Linked DNA regions of Homo sapiens. The protein of the gene in region 3 purifies or fractionates together with the protein of the main gene of each other region. This does not show direct contact. Each region holds a gene or a part of one and is shown on either strand. Other genes may lie near its edges. The genes, in order: ISY1-RAB43, ZZZ3, POLE4, MAP3K7, YEATS2, ISY1 and NUP133.

Evidence for each region.
Region 1: the proteins of POLE4 (region 3) and ISY1-RAB43 fractionate together in Homo sapiens (co-fractionation; one large-scale study listed by BioGRID). This does not show direct contact.
Region 2: the proteins of POLE4 (region 3) and ZZZ3 purify together in Homo sapiens (affinity purification with mass spectrometry; one large-scale study listed by BioGRID and IntAct). This does not show direct contact.
Region 4: the proteins of POLE4 (region 3) and MAP3K7 fractionate together in Homo sapiens (co-fractionation; one large-scale study listed by BioGRID). This does not show direct contact.
Region 5: the proteins of POLE4 (region 3) and YEATS2 purify together in Homo sapiens (affinity purification with mass spectrometry; 2 studies listed by BioGRID and IntAct, with this or other methods). This does not show direct contact.
Region 6: the proteins of POLE4 (region 3) and ISY1 fractionate together in Homo sapiens (co-fractionation; one large-scale study listed by BioGRID). This does not show direct contact.
Region 7: the proteins of POLE4 (region 3) and NUP133 fractionate together in Homo sapiens (co-fractionation; one large-scale study listed by BioGRID). This does not show direct contact.

What each region holds. Positions count from the first base shown.
Region 1 is NC_000003.12:129,091,564-129,095,063, forward strand, and holds part of ISY1-RAB43 (ISY1-RAB43 protein), read right to left. Parts: coding exon 3,462-3,500; coding exon of another isoform or gene 3,423-3,461; intron 1,031-3,422; coding exon of another isoform or gene 951-1,030; exon of another isoform or gene 937-950; intron 1-936. Other genes in the region: RAB43 (ras-related protein Rab-43), read right to left, coding at 3,423-3,500. UniProt on the Homo sapiens protein: Component of the spliceosome C complex required for the selective processing of microRNAs during embryonic stem cell differentiation. Required for the biogenesis of all miRNAs from the pri-miR-17-92 primary transcript except miR-92a.
Region 2 is NC_000001.11:77,676,159-77,679,658, reverse strand, and holds part of ZZZ3 (ZZ-type zinc finger-containing protein 3), read left to right. Parts: intron 1-3,500.
Region 3 is NC_000002.12:74,965,143-74,968,642, reverse strand, and holds part of POLE4 (DNA polymerase epsilon subunit 4), read right to left. Parts: intron 1-3,500. UniProt on the Homo sapiens protein: Accessory component of the DNA polymerase epsilon complex. Participates in DNA repair and in chromosomal DNA replication.
Region 4 is NC_000006.12:90,580,573-90,584,072, forward strand, and holds part of MAP3K7 (mitogen-activated protein kinase kinase kinase 7), read right to left. Parts: intron 1-3,500. UniProt on the Homo sapiens protein: Serine/threonine kinase which acts as an essential component of the MAP kinase signal transduction pathway. Plays an important role in the cascades of cellular responses evoked by changes in the environment.
Region 5 is NC_000003.12:183,704,297-183,707,796, reverse strand, and holds part of YEATS2 (YEATS domain-containing protein 2), read right to left. Parts: intron 1-3,500. UniProt on the Homo sapiens protein: Chromatin reader component of the ATAC complex, a complex with histone acetyltransferase activity on histones H3 and H4. YEATS2 specifically recognizes and binds histone H3 crotonylated at 'Lys-27' (H3K27cr).
Region 6 is NC_000003.12:129,133,564-129,137,063, reverse strand, and holds part of ISY1 (pre-mRNA-splicing factor ISY1 homolog), read left to right. Parts: intron 1-2,109; coding exon 2,110-2,232; intron 2,233-2,868; coding exon 2,869-2,990; intron 2,991-3,500. Other genes in the region: ISY1-RAB43 protein, read left to right, coding at 2,110-2,232, 2,869-2,990. UniProt on the Homo sapiens protein: Component of the spliceosome C complex required for the selective processing of microRNAs during embryonic stem cell differentiation. Required for the biogenesis of all miRNAs from the pri-miR-17-92 primary transcript except miR-92a.
Region 7 is NC_000001.11:229,484,342-229,487,841, forward strand, and holds part of NUP133 (nuclear pore complex protein Nup133), read right to left. Parts: intron 3,273-3,500; coding exon 3,125-3,272; intron 2,188-3,124; coding exon 2,030-2,187; intron 1-2,029. UniProt on the Homo sapiens protein: Involved in poly(A)+ RNA transport. Involved in nephrogenesis.

The DNA.
Region 1 (3,500 bases), on a different chromosome or scaffold from region 3:
ACTGCTTGAGCCCAGGAATTCAAGACCAGCCTGGGCAACACAGTGAGACCCCGTCTCAATTTACCCAGATCCTCCTAGATGGTATGAGATGACTTCATTACATTCCAAACAATCTGTTAAATTGCTCCTTGACCCAATTTCTAGAATAATTTTTTAAAAGTCTCTACATGGTTGACTTTTGTAATGTGGTTATAAGGAAGACAAAAAAAAAAAGAGTCTGGGCCAAGCGCAGTGGCTCATGCTTGTAATCCCAGCATTTGGGAAGGCCGAGGTGGGTGGATCACCTGAGGTTGGAAGTTCAAGACCAGCCTGGCCAACATGATGAAACCCCGTCTCTACTTAAAAAAAATACAAAAAATTAGCTAGGCGTGGTGGCGGGGGCCTGTAATCCCAGCTACTCGGGTGCCTGAGGCAGGAGTGGCAAGCGGAGGTTGCAGTGAGCCGAGATTGTGCCACTGTACTCCAGCCTGGGCAACAAGAGCGAAACTCCGTCATAAAAAAAAAAAAAAAAAAAAAGTCTGTAAAGATCTAAAATTTCCTTGGTAACCTTAATTGATGTAGCAACCAGTTTCAAAGTGTGAAACTTATTTGGATCCTGATCTCAACAAACTGGAAAAAATAAAACACATATGAATTTTATGGGCAATTATAAATCTGAATACAGACTGGCTATTTTATATTATTAAGGAAATGTCAGTATTTTTAGATGAGAAAATAATATTGCTGTTTTTAAGTGTTTAAATATTTTGTAGGTTCATGCTGGAATACTGCCAGGTGAAATGGTTTGATGTGAATTTGTCTCAATAATCCGAGGGAGGGGAGGTGACATGGTACAGATGAGAGGAGGTTGGACTTCAGTTGCTAATTGCTGAAGCAGGGTAATGGGTACCTGGGGGCTCATTATTATACTATTCTAAGCCAGATATAGTGGCTCACACCTGTAATTCCAACTACTTGGAGGTTGAGGCAGGAGGATTGCTTGAGGCCAGGAGTTCAAGATCAGCCTGGGCAACATAGCAGGACTGCATCTCTAAAAATATATGTATGTATATAAGTATGCATAAATAAATAGATAAAATACTATTTTCATAGCTGTATAAAATGTTCTATAGGCCGGGCGCGGTGGCTCACGCCTGTAATCCCAGCACTTTGGGAGGCTGAGGCGGGTGGATCACGAGGTCAGGAAATCGAGACCATCCTGGCTAACATGGTGAAACCCCGTCTCTACTAAAAATACAAAAAATTAGCCAGGCATGGTGGCGGGCGCCTGTGGTCCCAGCTACTCGGGAGGCTGAGGCAGGAGAATGGTGTGAACCCAGGAGGCAGAGCTTGCCATGAGCCGAGATCGCGCCACTGCACTCCAGTCTGGGCGACAGGGTGAGACTCTGTCTCAAAAAAAAAAAAAAGTTCTATAATAGAATGTTTTTTAATTAATTATTTTTTGGAAGACAGAGTCTTACTCTGTCGCATAGGCTGGAGGACAGTGGCACGATCTCGGCTCACTACAATCTCCGCCTCCCAGGTTCAAGCGATTCTCCTACCTTGGCCTCCGCAGTAGCTGGGATTACAGGTGTGTGCCACCATGCCTGGCTAATTTTTGTATTTTTAGTAGAGATGGGGTTTCACCATGTTGCCCAGGCTGGTCTTGAACTCCTGAACTCAGGCAATCCACCCACCTCAGCCTCTCAGTGTTAGGATTACAGGTGTGAGCCACCATGCCAGGCTGGAATGTTTTTCAGAAATGTCCTGGATAAATGGGAATTGGTGGCTGGGTGTGGTGGCTCACACCTGTAATCCCAGCACTTTTAGAGGTCGAGACGGGTGGATCACGAGGTCAGGAGATCGAGACCATCCTGGCCAACATGGTGAAACCCAGTCTCTACTAAAAATACAAAAGTTAGCCAGGTGTGGTGGTGCGTGCCTGTAGTCCCAGCTACTCAGGAGGCTGAGGCAGGAGAATTGCTTGAACCCGGGAGGCGGAGGTTGCAGTAAGCCAAGATCGTGCCACTGCACTCCAGCCTGGCGACAGAGCGAGACTCCGTCCCCCACCCCCAGCAAGAAAAGGTGGGGAAATGGTTAGGCTACGTGAGGAAAGCTCTGTTCATGCCAAGCACTCCATGTCCTAGTCTGAACAGGCTGTGGAAGGCAGGCCACATGGAACCAGGCACCACCCTCTTCCTGGCTGGAGTCAGGTCCAGGCCCTGTCTGTACATTTGAGTCAGAAGAATCAACCTGTTGGCCCAGCTACTCGGGAGGCTGAAGCAGGAGAATCGCTTGAACCAGGGAGACAGAGGTTGCAGTGGTTTTGCAGATCTTGCAGAACCAAGATCACGCCACGGCACTCCAGCCTGGGTGACTGAGTAAGACTCTGTCTCAAAAAAAAGAATCAACCTGTTGGGGTGAGGACCCCAGGGATAACATAAGAGCTAAAGAGCTTCTCCAGTCCAGGTCTGGGAAGGTTATATAGAAGGAAAACAAAGGTAAACAGCATCCTTCCACAGCAGCAGTTCTCAAAGTGGGATCCTTGGACCAGCAAGGTGGGTGTCACTTGGGAATTTGTTAGAAACGCACATTCATGGGCCCCACCCAGCCCGCCTGGATCAGATGCTCTGGAGGTTGAGGCCCTGCAGCTGCACTTGAAGAAGACTTCTGTGGGATTCTGAGGCACGGAAGCCATCAAGTGTCCCTGCTCTGTGTGCGGCACAACAGAGAAAGCCACAGACTTGAGGTCAGCAGAAGCAAACTCAAAGCCTACATGTGTATGCTCACAGGCCATGTGGACCCGGATAAATCACTGCACTTTTCTGAGCCTAGCCCCAGCCCCTGTCAAATGAGGAGAAGCCGGGGTACAAGAGCTAAATCTTGACACATGTGAAGAACAGCAGAGCAAACTTCAGCTCTCTTTCTTCTTTCCTCTAATTCCAATTTTGAATATAACTTTCTTTTTTTTTTTTTTTTTTTTTTTTTTTTGAGACGAATCTTGCTCTGTCACCCAGGTTGGAGTGCAGTGGCGTGATCTCAGCTCACTGCAAGCTCCGCCTCCCAGGTTCATGCCATTCTCCTGCCTCAGCCTCCCCAGCAGCTGGGACTACAGGCGCCTGCCACCACAACCGGCTAATTTTTTTTTATTTTTTTAGTAGAGACGAGGTTTCACTGTGTTAGCCAGGATGATCTCGATCTCCTGACCTTGTGATCCGCCCGCCTCAGCCTCCCAAAGTGCTGGGACTACAGGCGTGAGCCACCGTGCCCGGCCTTGAATGTAACTTTCTAAGTGATTAGCAGGATCAGGATTTGCAAAACCATGGCTCAAACTCTGGCTGGGACTCCCTCTGAACTCAGGGTTACACTGTGTTTAAAAAGCAGAGGGAGGCATGGACAGGCAGAGTGATGGGATTTGTGGTCCCGAGGAATCCCCAACTCACCGATCAGCAGCTGCACAATGTTGGAGCCCGCATACTTCCTCACATCCTCAATCCAGTGAGGCACCGACAGGAAGGAGC
Region 2 (3,500 bases), on a different chromosome or scaffold from region 3:
TCTCACTTGAGTTTTTTCCTTAAGGTCTGACACCATGCCAATTTCCACAGACCTGTAACTTTAAGTTACCTTAAGCTGGGCCTGGTGGCTCACGCCTGTAATACAAGCACTTTGGGAGGCCGAGGTGGGAGGATTGCTTGAGACCAGCAACAACATAGTCAGACCACGTTTCTACCAAAAAAGAAAAAAAATTAGCCTGGTAGTGCACGCCTGTAGTACCAGCTACTTGGGAGGCTGAGAAGGGAGGATTGCTTGAACCCAGAAGGTTGAGACTGCAGTGAGCTGTGATTGCACCATTGCACTCCAGCCTGGGCAACAGAGTGAGTGAGACCCTGTGTCAAAAATAAAATAAAAACACCTAAATTTCATATGAAAATTCAGTTTGGAGTCACCTACAAGAAATAGTTGCTAGAAGAGTTTCATTTTTATAGTAGTATTTACTAGAGATTTGGTATATACTCTGGTGCAAATTTCTGTAGTTAATGCTCTGATAACCACTATAATTGTACTCTGAAAACCACTCTCAGTAAATATTTCCCAAAGTCCAAAGTCTTGATTATTTTGTTTGACCCTTTCGTTCTCACCTTTCTGTTTTTCTTTTCAGCTGATTTTTCTCATTTATGTAGGTAATTTTTGTCTTATTAGAGAGGAGTGAGTTGACTAACTTGCCTTGAGGAGAATATCACTTTGTGATTAATCAAACTATTCAGATATTATTATTACTGTTGTTTTGGAACTTCAGTATATTTGTAAGTTAGAGGCAGTAATTCAGCTGACATTTATTGCTAATGACCTCAGCCATTTGAAACATAACAGCAATCCTGGACATAAAAAAATCTCTAAGCCTTCAAAATGACTGCAACCAAGTATAATAAGCCATTAGCCTTTATTAGGAAACTACTAATTGGAATTAGTCCACAGATAAAAATCTTCAGTGTTGGCCATTGGAGTTAGGGACATTGGCAGCTGAAATGTCATCTACAGGGGAAAAGGAAGAACTATTAAAAAGTAGGTGGAACTATAGTAGAATAGTGTTTTAAGGCCATTACATAAATACATACACTCCTATAATCATTAACTTCTGAAGGAATGACAGTATCGTAGAGCAGCCTAGTAAGTTGATGCATCACAATGATAACTTTAATAATGAACTTTTATTCTGTGTACTATGTTTAAGGAAGTAAGAAATTGGTGTCTTTTGAGATTGCTATAAAAGTAACCATTTTCAAAACTCTGTTAATTAAATGTTAAGTTTCAATTTTCTGGAAAATTTACGTGTAGATCTCTCCTTATCAGATGACACCAAATAAAAATGGTGCTACTGTGTATGGAACTTCCTTTGTTTTATTATTTTAACCTATTTATCTTTCTACTTAATATTTCAAGGAATTACTCCCAAACAAGGCTCTATTACATTTAATATTTGATATCAGTAATGAACAACCAATTGCCTAAAGATTAGCACATTTGCTAATGGAGAAGATAGTAAAGCAGATAATTAGAATTAGTAAATGACCTATGCATATGATTCAGTTGTATAGTTTTGAATCCTGGTATTGAGTCTATTAGCCCAAGTGTCCTAAGGTGCCAGGTTTTTGTAGTGAGTTTTTTTCATTGCATTGCTGGCCTCCTCTGTCTCATTTACTATGTTAATTTAAACCTTATGCTTCCATTAGTGGTAAAGTAGATAGTCTTTGACTTGTGTATAAGGGGTGTGTATGTATTTTAATGATTTTGAAAGCTGGTTTGAGGAATTAGATTTTGGGAATTAATATAACAATTATTAGCATTTTGATATATTTCTTCCATTATTTTAATGTATATTTTTTATGTATTTGTGGGTAAAAACATTTAATTTCATGTCCTGCTTTTTAACCTACTGTTAGGTACCACTTTCCCATTCTCACAATGCATCTTAATAACTATCATTATAAATGATTGTAAAATGTTCTGTGCAGTGAACATATGTTATTCCCCTATGTGAAGAACATATTTATACATGTTTCTTGTATATAGTATTATCTCTCTCTTGTATATTGCCAGAATTGATTTTTTAGGTACATTTTGAAGGCTCTTAAAACATACTGAACAATATTAATCAAAAGGGATAAATTTGTATTCTCTTTCGAGTGGTTGTTACCCTATACTCATCAACATTTAACATTTTTTATAAAGGTTTAATGGGGGTGTATGACATATTGTGCTTTATTTATTTAATTACTGAGGTGAAGCATGTTTATAGATGTATTTATCTTGTGAACTTTGAAGATAAATAGATTTTAACATTATTGCAGTCAAACATCTTTTTGTTTGTTTGTTTTGAGACAGAATCTTGCTCTATTGCACAGGCTGGAGTGCAGTGGCACCATCTCGGCTCACTGCAGCCTCTACCCCCCGGGTTCAAGCAATTCTCCTGCCTCAGCCTCCTGAGTAGCTGGGACTACAGATGCACACCACCACGCCCGGCTAATTTTTGTATTTTTGTAGAGATGGGGTTTCACCATGTTAGTCAGGCTGGTCTGGAACTCCTGACCTGAGGTGATCCACTTACCTCGGCCTCCCAAAGTGCTGGATTACAGGGGTGAGCCACGGTGCCTGGCCCAAACATCTTGATATAATTTTGTTCTGCTGATTTTATGAAATTCCTCCCTTTTCAGAACTGTAATAAACAATATTGGTTTAATTCTGTTTGTTTAGTTTTTCTAAGTTAGATTTAAATAAATTTAAGTTTTTACCTCATCTGGCATTGGTGTGAAATGAGAATCTAAATGTTTTCCTCCAAATTGGTAATTTTCTCAACTCTGTTAAATAATGCTTTATTTAATTTTTTAATTTTTCTCATTTTTTTGTTATGCTTCATTTTTACATTTTAATCATTTTTATTTTAAATTGTTTATTTTTACCCCAAGCCTTAAGAACATTCATATTGTTTTTAGATGATTCTGTGATATGTTTAATATCTTTTGCCTTGGCTTTCTTATTGTGGTGTTTGTTTCCTTATTTATTTTTAAGATTACTGTAAGTTGAGGATAATAAAGTTTATTTTTTAACAAAACAATGTTTTATAATTCCTTTTCTTGTCAGCCAGAATTTGAAATAAGATTTTTCCATACCACATAATTTGGTTGCATTAAATGAAAATTTCCCCCTTTTTGAACAGAGATAAAATGTGAAACTACTTAAAAGTACTATGCTGGCCACAGTGGCTCATGCCTGTAATCCCAACACTTTGGGAAGCTGAGGTGGAAGGATCGCTTCAGCCCAGGATTTGGACACCAGTCTGGGCAACATAGTGTGACCTCGTCTCTACAAAAAATACACAAAATTAGCCTGGTGTGGTGGCGTGCGCCTGTACTTTCAGCTACTGTGGAGGATGAGGTGGAAGGATCACTTGACCCCAAAAGATTGAGGCTACAATGAGCCCAGATTGCGCCCCTACACTCCAGCCTGGGTGACACAGTGAGACCCTTGTCAAAAAACCCCCAACCAACAAGTACAGT
Region 3 (3,500 bases):
GGAAAAAAAAAAAAAACAAAGATCACAGGGCTCTCTTCTAAAGAACCAAATGAACTATATGGAGAAAACTAGAACAGCCTCTAAAACTGCCAGCTTCCCACAGCAAAGCATTCTGCATTCATACCCTCGGGGTCACCCAGGACAACATCTGGTCCCACCCCTGTTCACCCTAAAGCAAAGCTGCCAGGCAACAACCACCCCCTCATCCCATACACACACACACAGTTACCAAACAGCCTTATTCCCTTATTCTTAAATAGAATGAAAATCACCAGGTATCTGAAGAAAGCTACACAGTTGAAAGGATACCAAAACTTTTTTTAATGACCTAGATAATATAGGGAAAATAAAAACATAAGAAAAATAAAGCAAAAACACTTCTAATTTAAAAAAAAATAGAGGTGCTTTTCATAATGGCAAGTTCCTGTTGAGATCAACTGAGAAAGCTAAATAAAATATATAAGAAAAGGAAATCTTCAGGAATTGAAGAGACATCAAGAAAAAGCAAATGTGAAATCTAGAGACAGTAAGAACACAAAACAAACCCAGCCTCTAATGTTACTTCTGCTCTCATGACATCTGCCAATCTGAAAAAGCTGAGAAACTGGGCGGTTATTTGTGTAGGCTGAAGGAACCAAGAGTCAAATCCCTGAGTCTACCCAAGTAAGGAAGTCTGACACCCATCTTTCTTAAGCTAGAGCCCAAAAGGCTGCCCCCTCAGAGTAAGGACGAACTGGAATTTAATCAGTGCCCCTTCACAGGCCTGCAGCCTGAGTTCATATCAGTATGATAGTCCAGAAACCTTCAAGTCTTAGATCTGGATTCAGAAGTCCTGCACTGATAATGGCTGTAGGTGGCTTCAGGAGCAAATGGAAATTTTCTTTGGAGAAAGTATCACCATATGGCCTCAACTTATCTAACAAATACTTTTTAAAGAAAATAACCATTATCCAAAGATAGGCATATAGGGGGATAAAAGGCCATGTGACAGTACCAAAAGAAACAACAGACAAAAAGACAGTCTCAAGAGACTATGGATGTTAGATTCGGCACAGACTAGCAAACAAAAAACTCAAAAGGCTTTGAATATTAGGTCATATATTGGATGGAACATTCACTATAAAACAACTGTGTTTACTATGTTTACAGAACTAAAAGACAAACTTCAAAATACCTGCAGAAAATAAGAACAACAAAAAGTACTCACAAAAATTGCTTGATACTTTATTAAGCTAAAAAAAAAGACAACAGATTTGGAAAGGAACCAAACAGAACTCACAGTACTGAAAAATACAAAAACTGAAACTAAAAAAAAAAAACAAAAAAAATAGTTTAAAGGAAATGAGACAAATGGAGAGAATAAACTGGAAGATCAGAAAAAATTACACAGAATGCATACTAGAGAGGCAAAATTATGATTGAGTTTTTACATATATTTAATGGGAATCCCAGAGAGAGACACAGGAAAGAACAAGGCAGAGCCAATAGCTGAAGAGACACTCGCTGAGAATTTTCCAGGACAGATGAAAGACATTAATCTATAGATTCAAGAAGCTCAAACAAACTACATAAAAAGAAATCCACACCTCTGTACATCAGAGTGAAACCACAGAAAATCAAAGTGAAAATCTTAAAAGCAGACAAAAAACAAAAAGGATAAACTAGCTTCAAAAGAATTACAAACAGGTAATTTCTCTATAGAAAACATAGAAGCCAAAAAAAAAAGCAGTAAAATGATAGCTTCAATGTGCTAAAAGAAAATAATTTTCCACCTAGAATTTATATTCAACAAATTATCCTCCAACAATGAAATTCAAGGCATTTTCATAAGAAAAAAATGAGAGAGTCAGTTACCAGACCATACTAAATGAAGTTCTAAATGATTTATTTCAGGAAGAAGAAAATGATCACAAATGGAGGATCGGAAATACAGAAAGGAGGCCAAGCACAGCAGCTCACGCCTGTAATCCCAGCACTTGGGAGGCCAAGGCAGGCAGATGACTTGAGGTCAGGAGTTTGAGACTAGCCTGGTCAACATGGTGAAACCCCATCTCTACTAAAAATACAAAAAAAACTAGCCAGGCTTGGTGGTGCATGCCTGTAATTCCAGCTACTTGGGAGGCTGAGACATGAGAATCACTTGAACCCAGGAGGCAGAGGTTGCAGTGAGCTGAGATCGCACCACTGCACTCCAGCCTGGGTGACGAAATGAAACTGTCTCAAAAATAATAATAATCCAGAAAGGAAAGAAAAGCAAAGGTAGTATGTGACTAAATCCATATATCATTGACTGCATAATTCAGGAATAAAAATGCCTTATGTAGATTGACAAAGACAAAACAAAAATACATGACAATAACAGCACATAAATTAGGAGACGAGGAATTTGAAAATTGAGTTAATGGATCCTGAGATCTCAATTTGTTGAGAATGAGGGGAAAGGTACTAAATAGGCTTTGATAAATTAAGGACTTACATAGTAACTGATAATCACTAAAAGAATAGAAATAGAGCATATAACTTCCAAGCTGATAGAGGGAAAAAAATCAAATAATAATCCAAAAGAAGGCCAAAAATTGAGAGAAAAAAAAAACAAAACATAAAACAAGCAAATAAAAAGCAGGACAAAATAAGACAATAGAATTCAAACTCATAGATATGACCAATTACATTAAACATAAATAAATGACGTGCTCCAGTTATAGACACAGACTGTCTGAATTTAGGAAAATAATCCAGTTAAATTCTGTTCACAAATATATGGAAAGATAAAAATTAAAAGATTTACAAAAATCCGTACCGTGCAAATAAATACTAACTAAAGAAAGCTGATAAGCTTTAATAATATTAAACAAAATAGACTTTAGGGCTCAAAGCAGTTAGAAATAACAATAGCCAATTTACAAATATAAAAGGCTCAATCACCAACAATATATAACAACATTAAATTTGTATATATCTAATCACATGGTTTCATAATATATAATGAAAGAATAGACCCAGAAATATAAGTAGAAATAGTCCATAATCATAGCAGTAGAGTTTTAACACATAACTCTTTGAAACAGGTAAAATAAGCAGACAGAAGAAATTCAGTAAGAACACAGAAAATCTAAATTATACAATAACCAAATTTGGCATTGCAACCCCTCTAACAGCATCACTGAATTCCATCAAATATTCAAAAACAAAATAATTCCAATCTTTCAATAAGTTTTCCAGAGAATAGATAAGATAAAAAGTGGGCCAGGCGCGGTGGCTCACGCCTGTAATCCCAACACTTTGGGAGGCTGAGGCGGGTGGACCTTGAACACCTGAGGTCAGGAGTTCAAGACCAGCCTGACCAACATGGCAAAACCCCATCTCTACTAAAATACAAAAATTATTGGGGTGTGGTGGTGCGAGCCTGTAATCCCAGCTACTCGAGAGGCTGAGGCAGGAGAATCACTTGAACCCAGGAGGCAGAGGTTGCAATGAGCTGAGATCGTACCACTGTACTC
Region 4 (3,500 bases), on a different chromosome or scaffold from region 3:
GCCTCCCAAAGTGTTGGGATTACAGGTGTGAGCCACCGTACCTAGCCCAACATTATTTTAAATGACTGTTTTTTCCCCAAAGATGAATTTTCATCAAGAGTAAAAAAGAGAACATATCAAGTTACAAGTATTTCCCCATCACACACATCCAACTAAAATGGTGACATACAAATAAATATTTCAGATATTCTTCATAATCCTTCATTTGTAAAAAACAGAGGAATGCAAAAAGGACTTTGGTTTTAAAAGGGAGGTCAATTTGGAAATATTTCCTTCTAAATTTATGAATGTTTTCTAAATCAAAATGTTTTTGATTAATTACTTTATGATAAGCATTTCTCCCCCTATGGTTGAAACCTCTTTGTTTTGGGTCTACAACTTTAGTCTCATACAATTAAGTAGATTTAAATTTAATTTCTTAATAAAAAATACAGAAGAATATGAGATGGTATATAGAACATTTCCATGCAACTACTATTGAAAGGCACAAAAACAAAAATCAGGTTTTGTGTGTTTGTGTGTTATTTTTAAAGAAATTCCTTTAAAAATTAATTTCTTTATGATGTAAGATGACTCCATTCCTTCAGACAAGTCATGTTAAAGAAAACAACCAAACACACACCTAACCTAAATGGAAAAGGATGTATGCCTTTGTGCTCTTAATTTATTATTAAATAATTCTTTTAATTGTTCTGAATTCATGTTATTTTTAGTTCAGTGACTACAGCTGTCAGTTTCATTTGGCCCTGTTCTATGAACTATCTGAATGGACCCCTGGTGATGCTGGCATTGTTCTGGCTGGAAATGCGGAACAAGACAGAACAAGCATAGATCATACATTTATTAGTTAGGACTTGGAGCCTCCAACTATGTTAGAACTTCAATATCTATTAATAAACTGTGGCAGAGTGGAACTGCCATCTGCTGACAAGATGGATTTGATAACATAAAAGTAAAGCTTTGATTATTCAAACTTTCTTCTGAATGTTTCATGCAGTCTTTTAATACCTGCCACAGTACATCTCACCCATTTTCTAGGCTTTTATTTCAAATAATATGCTCATGCTATCTTTTAAGCTACACGTGTACAATGCAAAAATTATCTCTGTAGCTACCTCTTAACTATAGTAATTCCAGATTTCTACTGAAATCAGTGGTCACTTTCACATGAAAGAATGTATTGATTATTTTAGGTATCCATAATTAAATAGTGACTAACAAATCTATGTACTCAGTTTGTTTAGACCACTATAAATTAGGTTTTTCTCTAATACCAATTCCCCATATATTTATAACTTAAACCTACAAAGTACATATAACTGTTTAAGTTCTATCTATATCTCCTCTTTGTAGCATATTTTAGCTTTTAAAACAAAACTTTTGTGTGTCTCCTTAACAAAGCTGAAGAATATATACAAATGCTGCAGTAATTTTATGTGTCCAATACTATAGCTTTGTTCCTACACTATAGTTGAGGTCAGCATTATGGGTCTCCCTTTTCAAAAGCAACCATTGTAAATAGTGTCTTTTTAGCACTCTGTAGTAAAGACCTACCATACGTGGCTTACTCATAGCATCTGGCCCTTTACAGCATTTTTTATCCCTGCTAAACAAAAGTATCTGCTAACTATAATAGAGTCGACATTAAAACAAGACTCGGATCTCATTTCTAACGTGTTGCCTTAGCCAAATCGCATAACTCAGCTCCTATTTTATCACATGTAATATAAGAGAACAAGATGGGCATTTAATTCTTATGATTATGCTGTGATACTTTCATGTACTCATTGAACAAATATGTATAGAGAACCTTCTAGGTTCTAGGCATTGGGGTTACAAAAGTGAATAAAGCGCCTTACATTTTGCTGAAGGAGAGACACAATTTCAGTTACTGGTAAGTACCATGAAAGATAATAGAAATGACAAAAGATCTAGGTTGTTCAGGGAATGCTTCTCTAAGGAAGTGTTAATAACATTTGAGGTGGGACTTGACTGGTGAGGAGTCAGTCATCTTAAGTTATGGGGGAACAGCGCTTTAGGCAGAGGAACAACTACAAAGAAAATTCATCTTAGTGACTTTCCCAACCCACGATGGTCACTTTATTCAAAACCTAGTTTTAAACTTGTCCCTACTCAATGGAACCTTCTGTGATTAACTCTATTTTCAAATTATGGCTTAAGTGTTTAATTTACACTATATTCAGTTTTAAATTTGTGGTCTATAGTTAACTGTTCTGTGTTTACTCCAGTCTGATATCATACTAAGTCAGACATTTTAAGGAGGTAATCCTAGGATTCTTCTATCATCTTTTTTTTTTTTTTTTTTTTGAGACAGAGTCTCCCTCTGTTGTCCAGGCTAGGGTGCGGTGGCATGATCTCAGCTCACTGCAACCTCTGCCTCCTGGGTTCAAACGATTCTCATGCCTCAGCCACTCAAGTAGCTGGGATTACAGGCCTGTGCCACCACACCCAGCTAATTTTTGTACTTTCAGTAGTGACGGGGTTTCTCCGTGTTGGCCAGGGTGGTCTTGAACTCCTGGCTTCAAGTGATCTGCCCGCACTGGCCCTCCAAAGTGCTCGGATTACAGGTGTGAGCCACCGCACCAAGCCCTATTTATCTTTTATAGTACCTCAGAGTATTACGCACAGATGAGAATGTTCATTAAATGCTCAGGACCAACTACACTAAAAAGGAAATCAGTATTTTGTTTCCCCTTTCCCATATTAGGTTTGGTTATAGAGTACTTCAGAAAGTACTGAGTGACACTGTAAATCCAGTGGAAAGGGCAACTGACTCACAAGTGAGAAGTCTCATATTCAATTCCCAGCTTTACCATTTACTTAGGCATGCGGCTTCTGGCAAGTCAAACTCTATGACTGCTTGTCAATATCTGTACAATGGGATATCATTTGCCCTGTCAACCCAGGATTAGTTGGTCACCAACTGAATTCTATAGGAGACCATGATCAGTCTTTAAAGAACTGCTAAGCTTACTATAGAAAACAGTTAAATACTGGAAAACATGAATGTGTTTTCATTTTAGAACTGGAAAAGACCTTAAATGATCTTGTTCAGTCAGTTTACATGAGTAACCACAGGCCCAGAAAAATGTGGTGACTTCCTCAAAGTTACAAAAATATATTATGGCAGAATCAGTACAGCATCTAAATTTTCTTTTTCAGTCCAGAACACTTTCCACTATACTACCCTGTGTAACACTTCTTGCAACCCATCCCCTCTTTTATTCCAACATTCTCTACAGCCAGTTCTAGATGGTAAACACTAAATGATGTTTAAAAAGTACCTAGGCAGATTTCTGAGGCTGAGACCTTACCTAATTTGACTGAATTGAATTGAATCTAAGATGTGCCAAACTAATACTACTGAGTTACAATATTAGAAATGCAAGATCAGCTAATGTCTTAGAAATATGTATCTACTAAATGGCTGCATATTTGGCCTGTAGTTGAATTATTATTTTTTTTACAGTTTCTAATTA
Region 5 (3,500 bases), on a different chromosome or scaffold from region 3:
CAGGAGAATTGCTTGAACCCGGGAGGCAGAGGTTGCAGTGATCCGAGATTGCGCCACTGCACTCCAGCCTGGGTGACAGAGTGAGACTTCGTCTCAAAAAAAAAAAAAAAAAAAAAAATAGGTGGGGAAGGGGAGTAGTACAATCATTTTCTATCTGCTTCCATACAGACAGGCATTCCTAAGATGCTGATAATGATTTCATAGTTCCTGGCCCTGTCCTTTCTACAGTCTTAAAAGAAAATACATTCTCTTTTGTAAACAAGACAACCAGTGTTCCTTTATTAAATATCTGAATAAGACTCTACAATCCATTTTCCATTAGCCAATGACATTTCAAAAATGTCTCAAAAGTCCAAACCAGAGGAATGGACGAACAAATCGTGGTATACTCAATGAACTCTTGATGCAGGCAACAACAGAAATGAACCTCAAAATCATTATGGCAAGCCAAAGAAGGCAAACACAAGAGTACAAGCTAAATTATCCCACTTAAGTTCTAGAAGAGACAAATTAATCTATAGTGAAAGAAATGAGAATCATAGTTGGAGGTGCTGGTGTTAGGGACTGACTGGGAAGAGGAATGAAGACTTTTTTCTTAGAAATATTTTATTCAGGTTGAGTATTCCTTACCCAAGATGCCTGGGACCAGAACTGTTTCAGATTTCATACTGTTTTGGATTTTGGAATATTTGCATATACATAGTAAGATATCTTTGGGAAGGAACCCAAATCTAAACATGAAATTCATTTACGCTTCATAAATATCTTACACACAGAGCCTGAAGGTAATTTTATACAACATTTTAAATAATTCAAAACATAACACAAAGTTTTGACTATGTTTTAACTGACCAGTCACAAGGTCAGGTGTGAAATTTTCCACTGTGGCATCATGTTGGTGCTTAAGAAGTTTCAGATTTTGGAGCATTTAAGATTCAGATTTTTGGATTACCAATGCTCCACCTAACTTTTTTTTTTTTGAGACAGAGTTTCGCTCTTGTTGTCCAGGCTGGAGTGCAATGGCACAATCTCAGCTCGCGGCAACCTCCGCCTCCCGGGTTCAAGCGATTCTCCTGCCTCAGCCTCCTGGGTAGCTGGGATTACAAGTATGCGCCACCGCGCCGGGCTAATTTTGTATTTTTAGTAGAGACGGGGTTTCTCCATGTTGGTCATGCTGGTCTCGAACTCCCGATCTCAGGTGATCTGCCCGTCTTGGCCTCCCACAGTGCTCCACTAATCTTAATAAGAGTGTAGGTTAGATGGGTATGTATATCCAATTGCAAAAACACCCAACTGTACACGCAAAATCTGTATTTCACTGTCTGTAAACTATACCTCACTTTAGAAAAGGACAATAAGAATATTTTTCTGATCATGTCATCCCCTGCTTGAATCCTTCAAATAGCTTTTCATAACATTTAGAACAAATTTCCATTCCTTAACATGACCTAAGAGATGTGAACTGCGCCCTGTCTCCCTCTCCATCCTTAATCTTTAAGATCCAGACAGGTTGGTTTTCTATCCCTCAAATATACTCCCAATTTTCCTTTGAGCTTTTGGAATCATGGCTCCTTCTATCTGGAATGCTCTTTTCTTAGGTTAGCTTAATCAGATTCCAGCTGAAATCTCCCCCTTATCAGGGGCCTTCCTTGACCGTGCCCCATCCAACACAGCTCTCCCTACCTTCTCCCTCCAAAGTTCCTGGAAGTGCTCAATATTACTATCTGGAAAAATAAATGAAGGATTTTTTTTTTTTTTTTGAAACAGTCTTGCTCTGTCACCCAGGATGGAGTGCAGTGGTGCGATCTTGGCTCACTACAAGCTCCGCCTCCCGGGTCAGGCCATTCTCCTGCCTCAGCCTCCCGAGTAGCTGGGACTACAGGCGCCCGCCACCATGCCTGGCTAATTTTTTTGCATTTTTACTAAAGATGGAGTTCCACCATGTTAGCCAGGATGGTCTCGATCTCCTCAACTCGTGATCTGCCTGCCCCGGCCTCCCAAAGTGCTGGGATTAGAGGCGTGAGCCACTGCGCCCAGCCATAAATGAAGGATTAACTAAAATATCTGCCAAAATATAAATGACCACAGGGAACATAACTACTACCTTACATTAGTTTTCATCATTAATCTATTTGTTGATATTGCTACATCTTTAAAGGCTCTTTAGCTAAATGTTTAAAAGAATGTACAAAGTTATTATACACAGACACATGCAAACAAAAAGACAGTAAGCAAGGCAATATTAATAATAGAATTCAAGGCAAAAAAAATAACATGATAAAGATGATGTTATTAAAGGCACAATCACAAAAATACATCTTAAACTATACATCCAACAATATAGTATCAAAATACATACAACAAACAGAAAAAGGAAAGTTTAAGAAATCACACATCTCTATATAAAATTTAAAAGATTAAGACAATTTATAAAAATACAGATGATAGGCCGGGCGTGGTGGCTCACGCTTGTAATCCCAGCAGTTTGGGAAGTTGAGGCAGGTGACTCGCTTGAGCTCAGGAGTTCAAGACCACCCTGGGCAACACAGTGAAACCCTGTCTCTACAAACAATACAAAAATTAGTTAGGAGTAGTGGCAAGCACCTGTACTCCCAGCTACTTGGGCAGCTGAGGTAGGAGGATTGCTTGAGCCCAGGAGATGGAGCCTGCAGTTAAGCTGAGATCGCGCCGTTGCACCTCCAGCCTGGGTGACAGAGCCAGACCCCGTCTCAAACAAAACAAACACAACAAACAAAAAAGATGATATAGATATATATCTGGTAATTAACAAGCCAGAATTAACAAATACACACAACTCTGAACCCAACAGAAAAAAATCTTTTAAAAATATCTATAAAAGTTCATTAAGGTCGGATGCAGTGGCTCATGCCTGTAATCCCAGCATTTTGGGAGTCCAAGGTGGGTGGATCACTTGAGGACAGGAGTTTGAAACTAGCCTGGCCAATGTGGTAAAACCCCGTCTCTACTAAAAATACAAAAATTAGCTGGGCATAGTTGTGGATACCTGTAATCCCAGCTACTTGGGAGGCTGAGGCAGGAGAACTGCTGAACCCAGGAAGTGGAGGTTGCAGTGAGCCGAAATCACGCCACTGCACTCCAGCCTGGGCAACAGAGTGAGACTCTGTCTCAAAAAAAAAAAAGTTCATAAAATGTAAATCATACAGTAAGATATGAAGAAAGTCTCAAATTACTGCAAAATGTAGAAATATTACAGCCACATTCTGATCTTAATAAAAATTAATATTAGCTCACCATGATATGGAAAATAAGACACTCTTCTAATAACTCATGACTCAAAGAAGAAATTAAAACTAAAGTAACAGACTATTTAAAAACTAACGAGAACACAGTATCTCCAAACCTATGGAAATGTGGTCAAAAGTCACCATCAGAGGAAAATGGCAAACAAGCTTTCACTGCAAATACACATACAAATCCAATCCAGCAGGGTATTAAAAGCATAATGCATCATAACTGGA
Region 6 (3,500 bases), on a different chromosome or scaffold from region 3:
AATTAGCTGGGCATGGTGGCGGGCACCTGTAATCCCAGCTACTTGGGAGGCTGAGGCAGGAGAATGGCGTGAACCCAGGAGGCGGAGCTTGCAGTGAACTGAGATCGCGCCATTGCACTCCAGCCTGGGCAACAGAGTGAGGCTCTGTCTAAAAAAATAAAATTAAAAAATAAAAAATAAAAAAAAAAAGAAGAAGAAAATACAAAATTAGCTGGGCATGGTGGCAGGTGCCTATAATCCCAGCTACTCGGGAGACTAAGGCAGGAGAATGGCGTGAACCCAGGAGGCGGAGCTTGCAGTGAGCTGAGATCACGCCATTGCACTCCAGCCTGGGTGACAGAGCGAGGCTCTGTCTTTAAAAAAAAAAAAAAAGAAGAAGAAGAAAATACAAAATTAGCCGGGCGTGGTGGTGCGTGCCTGTAATTCCAGCTACTCAGGAGGCTGAGGCAGGAGAATTGCTTGAACCCAGGAGGCGGAGGTTGTGGTGAGCTGAGATTGCGCCATTGCACTCCAGCCTGAGCAACAAGAGCGAGACTCCGTCCCACAAAAAAAAGAAAAAAACATGCTGGGATTACAGGCATGAGTCACTGCACCTGGCCAGCTTTTATTCTTTCACCAATCTGGTTGGTTGTCATTTTGTTTTTCATTTTTAATAATTACTTAGCCGGGTGCAGTGGCTCACACCTATAATCTTAGCACTTTGGGAAGCCTAAGCGGGTGGATCACCTGAGGTCAGGAGTTCGAGACTTGCCTGGCCAACATGGTGAAACCCCATCTCTACTAAAAATACAAAAATTAGCTGGGTGTGGTGGCGGGTGCTTGTAATCCCAGCTACTCGGGAGGCTGAGGCAGGAGAATCGCTTGAACCCGGGATGCAGAGGTTGCAGTGAGCCAAGATCATGCCATTGCACTCCAGCCTGGACAAGAGCGAAATTCCATCTCAAAAAAAAAAAAGAATTACTTAAATATTCTGGATTGTAGTCCTAGTCTGAAAATATCTTCTTTAGGGCTTTCTCATGTATCTTTTTTGTTTGTTTCTAGCTTCTTTTGTCTTTTTTATTTACTTATGTTTCCTGTCATGCTTTTTCATTAAACATTATGACAGTTCCTGTGTTATTAAAATACTTTGTGAAATAGCATTACAGGGGCTGCAGGATATCCCATCCCATACATATTCTGCAATTTACAATCATAGGTTATTCCCAAGTTTTCTCTATTATATAAATAATACTGTGATGCATATTTCTGTACATGAAGCTTTTTGCTATCTCGTGTTTGGTTTTTGTTTTTTTTTTTTTGAGATGGAGTCTCGCTCTGTCGCCCAGGCTGCAGTGCAGTGGTGCAGTCTTCGCTCACTGCAACCTCTGTCCCCTGGGTTCAAGCGATTCTCCTGCCTCAGCCTCAGGAGTAGCTGGGATTACAGGGGCCCCCACCACCATGCCTGGCTAATTTTTGTATTTTTAGTAGAGATGGGGTTTCACCATATTGGCCACGCTGGTCTTGAACTGCTGACCTCGTGATTCTCCCGCCTCGGCCTCCCAAAGTGCTGGGATTACAGGCATGAGTCACCGCACCCGGCCTGGTTTTGTTTTTTACTTAGGTAGATTGCTTTTAAACGGACAAATGGGTCCAAGTACTGATTTTAAAAAGGGCTCTACCACTTAAATAATTCCATGAATAGTATAGAAAAGTGTCTATCCATGGTATTTTCTTTTTCTGTGTGATGGAGTCTTGTTTTGTCGCCCAGGCTGGAGTGCAGTGGCGTGATCTCGGCTCACTGCAAACTCTGCCTCCTAGGTTCAAGCGATTCTCCTGCCACAGCCTGAGTAGCTGGGATTACAGGTGCGCACCACCACGCCCGGCTAATTTTTGTATTTTTAGTAGAGACGAGGTTTCACCATGTTGGTCAGGCTGGTCTCGAACTCCTGACCTTGTGAGCCACCTGTCTGGGCCTCCCAAAGCGCTAGGATTACAAGCATGAGCCACTGCGCCCACCTGGTATTTTCATGAACATACGTGCCACGTGTGTGTATAGCGTTGCATCAGGAGACAGCTTCGCTGGAGTGTGATTATGACTTGGAAACTCAGCTCCATTTCTGTTTCTTATAGCTCTTCCTCCTCCCAGAAAGACACGTGCTGAGCTCATGAAGGCAATCGATTTTGAGTACTATGGTTACCTAGATGAAGATGATGGTGTTATTGTGCCTTTGGAACAGGAATATGAAAAGAAACGTAGGTCTCTGGGCATTTTATTTCATAATAGATGGCATCTGTTTTCTGTTGTGTCCTTTGAAAACAGGATTTTCAATAGTGCTTTATGCCAGAAGGGAGTTTTCTTTGTTGCTAATGATCTTCAGGCGTGATGGTCTGCTAATTCCCTGACCCCTGTGAGGCAGTCAAAGCTGTGTGGGCCAGAGGTAACAGGTTGGGGAAGCCATGAGAGCCACGTCTGACCGGTCCCTGTCTGCTAGGAGGTCACCATGTGGATTCGTGCTAATACCAGTGCCCATGTGACACATCAGGCCAGGACTTTGGAAGCAAGTGGTCTGGAGCTGGAGCTGCTTTCTAGCATGCTCTGCCCCTGCCTTCTCTCTTTTCATGTGGACATGTTGGGAATCCACTCAGGTTGTGGAAGTGGGGAGGATTTGGGAATGTTCCCTAAAAAGCTGCTTTGTAGTGACTGAAGGCCAGAGCTGTTGTAGGACTACCATGCTTCACATCCATTTCCACCCACGGGGGCAGAATGAAGGGTGTCCCTTTCTAGAGGGGATGTCTAGACTTTCCCTGCATAGTGTTGGCCTTTCCCTGCATAGTGTTGAAAGCTCATTTAGAGACAAATAAATAGCACCTACCCTCTCTTGTGTTCAGTCAGAGCCGAGTTAGTGGAAAAGTGGAAAGCAGAGAGAGAGGCTCGGCTGGCAAGAGGAGAAAAGGAAGAGGAGGAGGAAGAGGAGGAAGAGATCAACATCTATGCAGTCACCGAGGAGGAGGTATTGGGGTTGGCCCCCTCTGGCACTCACTGCCATCTGTTCCAAGCCATGAAGTGTGGCAGGGAGGAAACTTGGCTCCCAAATACAGAGTCAGGGTTCACAGCCCAGCTTGCTCACCTGCAGGATGGCTGTGAAAACACTTGCGAGATTACAGGAGGGTTTCAGGAGGCAGCAGCCATGAGAGTGCCCTGCCGGCCGTGCTTTACACCAGGGCTTCCTTCTTTCCTTCTTAAAGACAGGCCCTTCTGCATACACTAGAATTAGACTGATAAACACAGAGGAAGCCATGAGCTTTAGCCCATGACCTCATCACTTCTGTTCACGTGTCAGTGGCAGTTGCTCTTCTGTAGTCTAACACCCCCATCTTTTTTATTTTTTTTGAAACGGAATCTGGCTCTGTTGCCCAGGCTGGAGTGCAGTGGCACAATCTTGGCTCACTGCAACCTCTGCCTTCCGGGTTCAAGCAATTCTTCTGCCTCAACCTCCCAAGTAGCTGGGACTACAGGCGAG
Region 7 (3,500 bases), on a different chromosome or scaffold from region 3:
TACACTAACATTAATGATAGCTGATGAGTTAAAAAAAAAAAAATTTATGTTTCAAGCAAGTTTACGAATTTGTGTTGGGCTGCATTCAAAGCCATCCTGGGCCGCATGCAGCCCATGGGTTGTGGGTTGGACAAGCTTGGTCCATACCAATTATTCATATACTTATTGAAACACTATAAATAGCATCAAATGATCAACCAAAGTCATACAGAAAAGGTACAGGTAATTCAGGGATTATGTTGTAAGTAAAATAATTTGGACATTTCATCATAATTAACAGAATCTTTTTATAGGTTTGCTCTTACACGACTCATCACAGTGTATACTACCTAAGCATAATGGTTGATTACAAATTTAAACAACGGTTTAGAAAAATTTTAAAGAAATGGAATACTATAAAATTGCTTCAGAATGTATAACAGTATTATAATAACCATACAATTACAAAATAGATATTAATCCTTTTTTGTAATCGTATTAATTACAAAATACAAGGTATTTTGTACTTTGTATAATTTTGTATAATTACAAAATACAAAATGCAAGGTATTAATCCCTTTTGTGAAAAGAAAAAAAAGTTAAAAATTGTTTCTTTCCTTTAAAACTACACTTAATCACTTTAATTTGAATTACAGAGGTAGTCTATATATTTCATACACTATTCAAATGGAAATTACCCCAAACAGTATTAATTATTTTTAGTCTTCTGTAAAAGAATGATAAAAATCTTATGGATAGGATATTTCAGGTTTCAAGACAACAGAATAAAATTGGTAATTTTTACCTGGCTATTCCTCTCAAAAAATCATCCCAGAATAAAAAGAAACAGAAATACAAGCTCCTTGGAAATATCTGTGATACTAACTACAACAAAGGAAGATAGAAAGCAGAAGGAATGGGAAATGGCCCCGCTGACAGGAGATGAGGCCACCTATGCATGGTGCAGAGGACAGGTCCTGAGGATTTGAGGACAATAGAAAAGGGAAGTTCTGGGATGACAGCTGTGCAGATGGAAGGTTTCTGGAGACTTGACTTTGGGAAAAACTACATTGAGGGGCACTCTACAGAACTCCTGGAGTGTGTAAAAAGATTAAGTCACATATGAAAGGAAAGTGAGAAAATACAAAACGAGGTCATTATACACTCCAAGAGTCACACAAAGTTCTATAATAAAGGACATGTAATCAGTATTTGGGATCAGCAAACCATAAACAATATTTACATTGTCATTACAATGAAAAAAATTTATGTTAGAATGATAAAGGCAGAGGAAGGAGTATAAGGTAACCCAAAACCTCATTTTCTGTAGTAGAAAATCAACAGATGCATCAGGAGACAGGAATATATGTACATTACTTAGATATATGGAGAAAAATACCAGAATAAATCACTAAAAGGCTTAAATGTAGTTGCTCCAGGCAAAGAGGACAGAAGGGATGAGGAAGATAAAAAGAACTAATGTCTGCATCATTACGTCTTTGAAAACTGTCTCAGTTTTGAGACCATTTGTATAAAATAATCTGATAAAACTAAAAATTAGGCTGGGCATGGTGGCTCCACGCCAGTAATCCCAGCACTTTGGGAGGCCGAGGCGGGAGGATTCTTGAGCCCAGGAGTTTGAGACCAGCCTAGGCAACATAAGGAGATCCTGTCTCTACAAAAAATAAAAAATTAGCCAGGTGAGATGGCGCATGTCTGTAGTCCCAGCTATTTAGGAAGTTAAGAGGGGAGGACTGCTTGATCCCGGGAGGTTGAGGTGAGGCTGCAGTGAGCTATGATTATGCCACTGCACTCTAGCCTGGGCAACAGAGTGAGACTCTGTCTCAAAAACCAAACCAAACCAAAAAACAAAAAATTAGCCAGGCACCTACTGGGAAGTCTGAGGCAGGAGGATTGCTTGAGGCCAGGAGTTTGGGGCTGCAATGAACTACGACTGTGCCACTGCACTCTAGCCTGGGTGACAGCGTGAGACACTATCTCTAAAAAATAAATAACATAAAAACTTCAAATTCTTATCGAATCACATTACCTCACTGTTTGGTCCAGCAACTGAAGATGCTAAAGACCCTTCCAAGTCTTCTGCCAATATAGACACATTTTCCCTTGAAGTAATAGACACCAGTCCACTGTTTCTAGAAAAAATGATAGGAACACCACCACAGGCACCAGCACCTAAAACACTATCTCCTAAAAGAAAGGAAAACAGAGTCAAATACATCTAACAATAACAACAAAATGCTATGTAAAAGCTACCACCCTAAGCAGAAAATCATCTTGATGATATATTAAGCACATTTTTTCCTTTACAACATTAGTCCTACTTCGAACTCATCCTTTACATCCCAGAATCAAATGCTAAGAACCGGTTGCTATCTGAAGAAGCAGGCTCTGTGTCTTTCAGCTTTAAGGACAATAAAAACTAGCCTTGCCAGACAGCAGTCAGTCTAGTAAGCCAAAAAAGAAAATTATTCCTTCTGCAAAACTCAGAAGAAGAGCTTTTTCAATCCTGTGGAGTTCTCTTAATTCTGACTTTAACTTACCACATCAGTCAATGGGGACTGGAAAAAAAAAAAAAAAAAAAAGGTCTAAGCCTACCTGGCACCTTAGTAACATCCTACCCACCCTCTGTCAAGGTTCTTGTGCTGGGACTAGAAAACCTGGGTTCCATGCTGTTGCCTACCTGCACTCTGTCCTCTGCCCAACCCCTTCAGCTAAGTATCTGCTTGGTTCTTCTTCAATCCTGACCAGCCCCCCTGCATAAGTCCAGCACCTGAAGCTCTTCTTATCTAGGGGTGTGGAAAAGTTAAAGCATCAACTCAGAATATGTCACTTTTACTAACTAGGAATAAGCAATTACTTCTCTTGGCAATAGTTTTTTGCTTCTTGGCATCTTCTCCTGGAACAAATGTTACTATCTTTGTCTGTAAATATAATAGTTTGGAAATTCTAGTACCCTTTTGGTTTCTTAGTAGGGTTATGGCTTCAGCTGCTGTAGTTGTGGTATGAAATGTCTCAGAAACATTTGAAAGCAGCATGCTTGAAGTGACATTCAGGGAAAGAGAAAAAAAGCACTCAGAATGACTAATGAGCTCACCAATCATGCTTTCTAAAACTGCTACTGTACCTTGTGCATTAAAGACAATTTTCTCCTGGGGAAGAGAAAATTTCCCAGTTCCTGTGGAGCACACATAGACAGCACTTTCGTTATACAGATAGGCAGTCTGGTTTGAAAAGTTTGGGACCGTCAACTGACACAAAATCAGGTCTTCAGACTGAAAGTTAAATTTAAGATTACATTTAACAAGAAGTAAAACAAAAATATTTGTATGATTTTTTAAATTCATTTTTGTACATTATTTCATAAAAATATTTCACCAATTCTCTTTGTAAAAATCTGAACACTACCCATGAGATGATTAACAAAACATGACAGAGTAAGTTTATAAACATCAATTAGACATATATTTTGTTGACTTGCTTATAATTTGCTTTTTTAATTT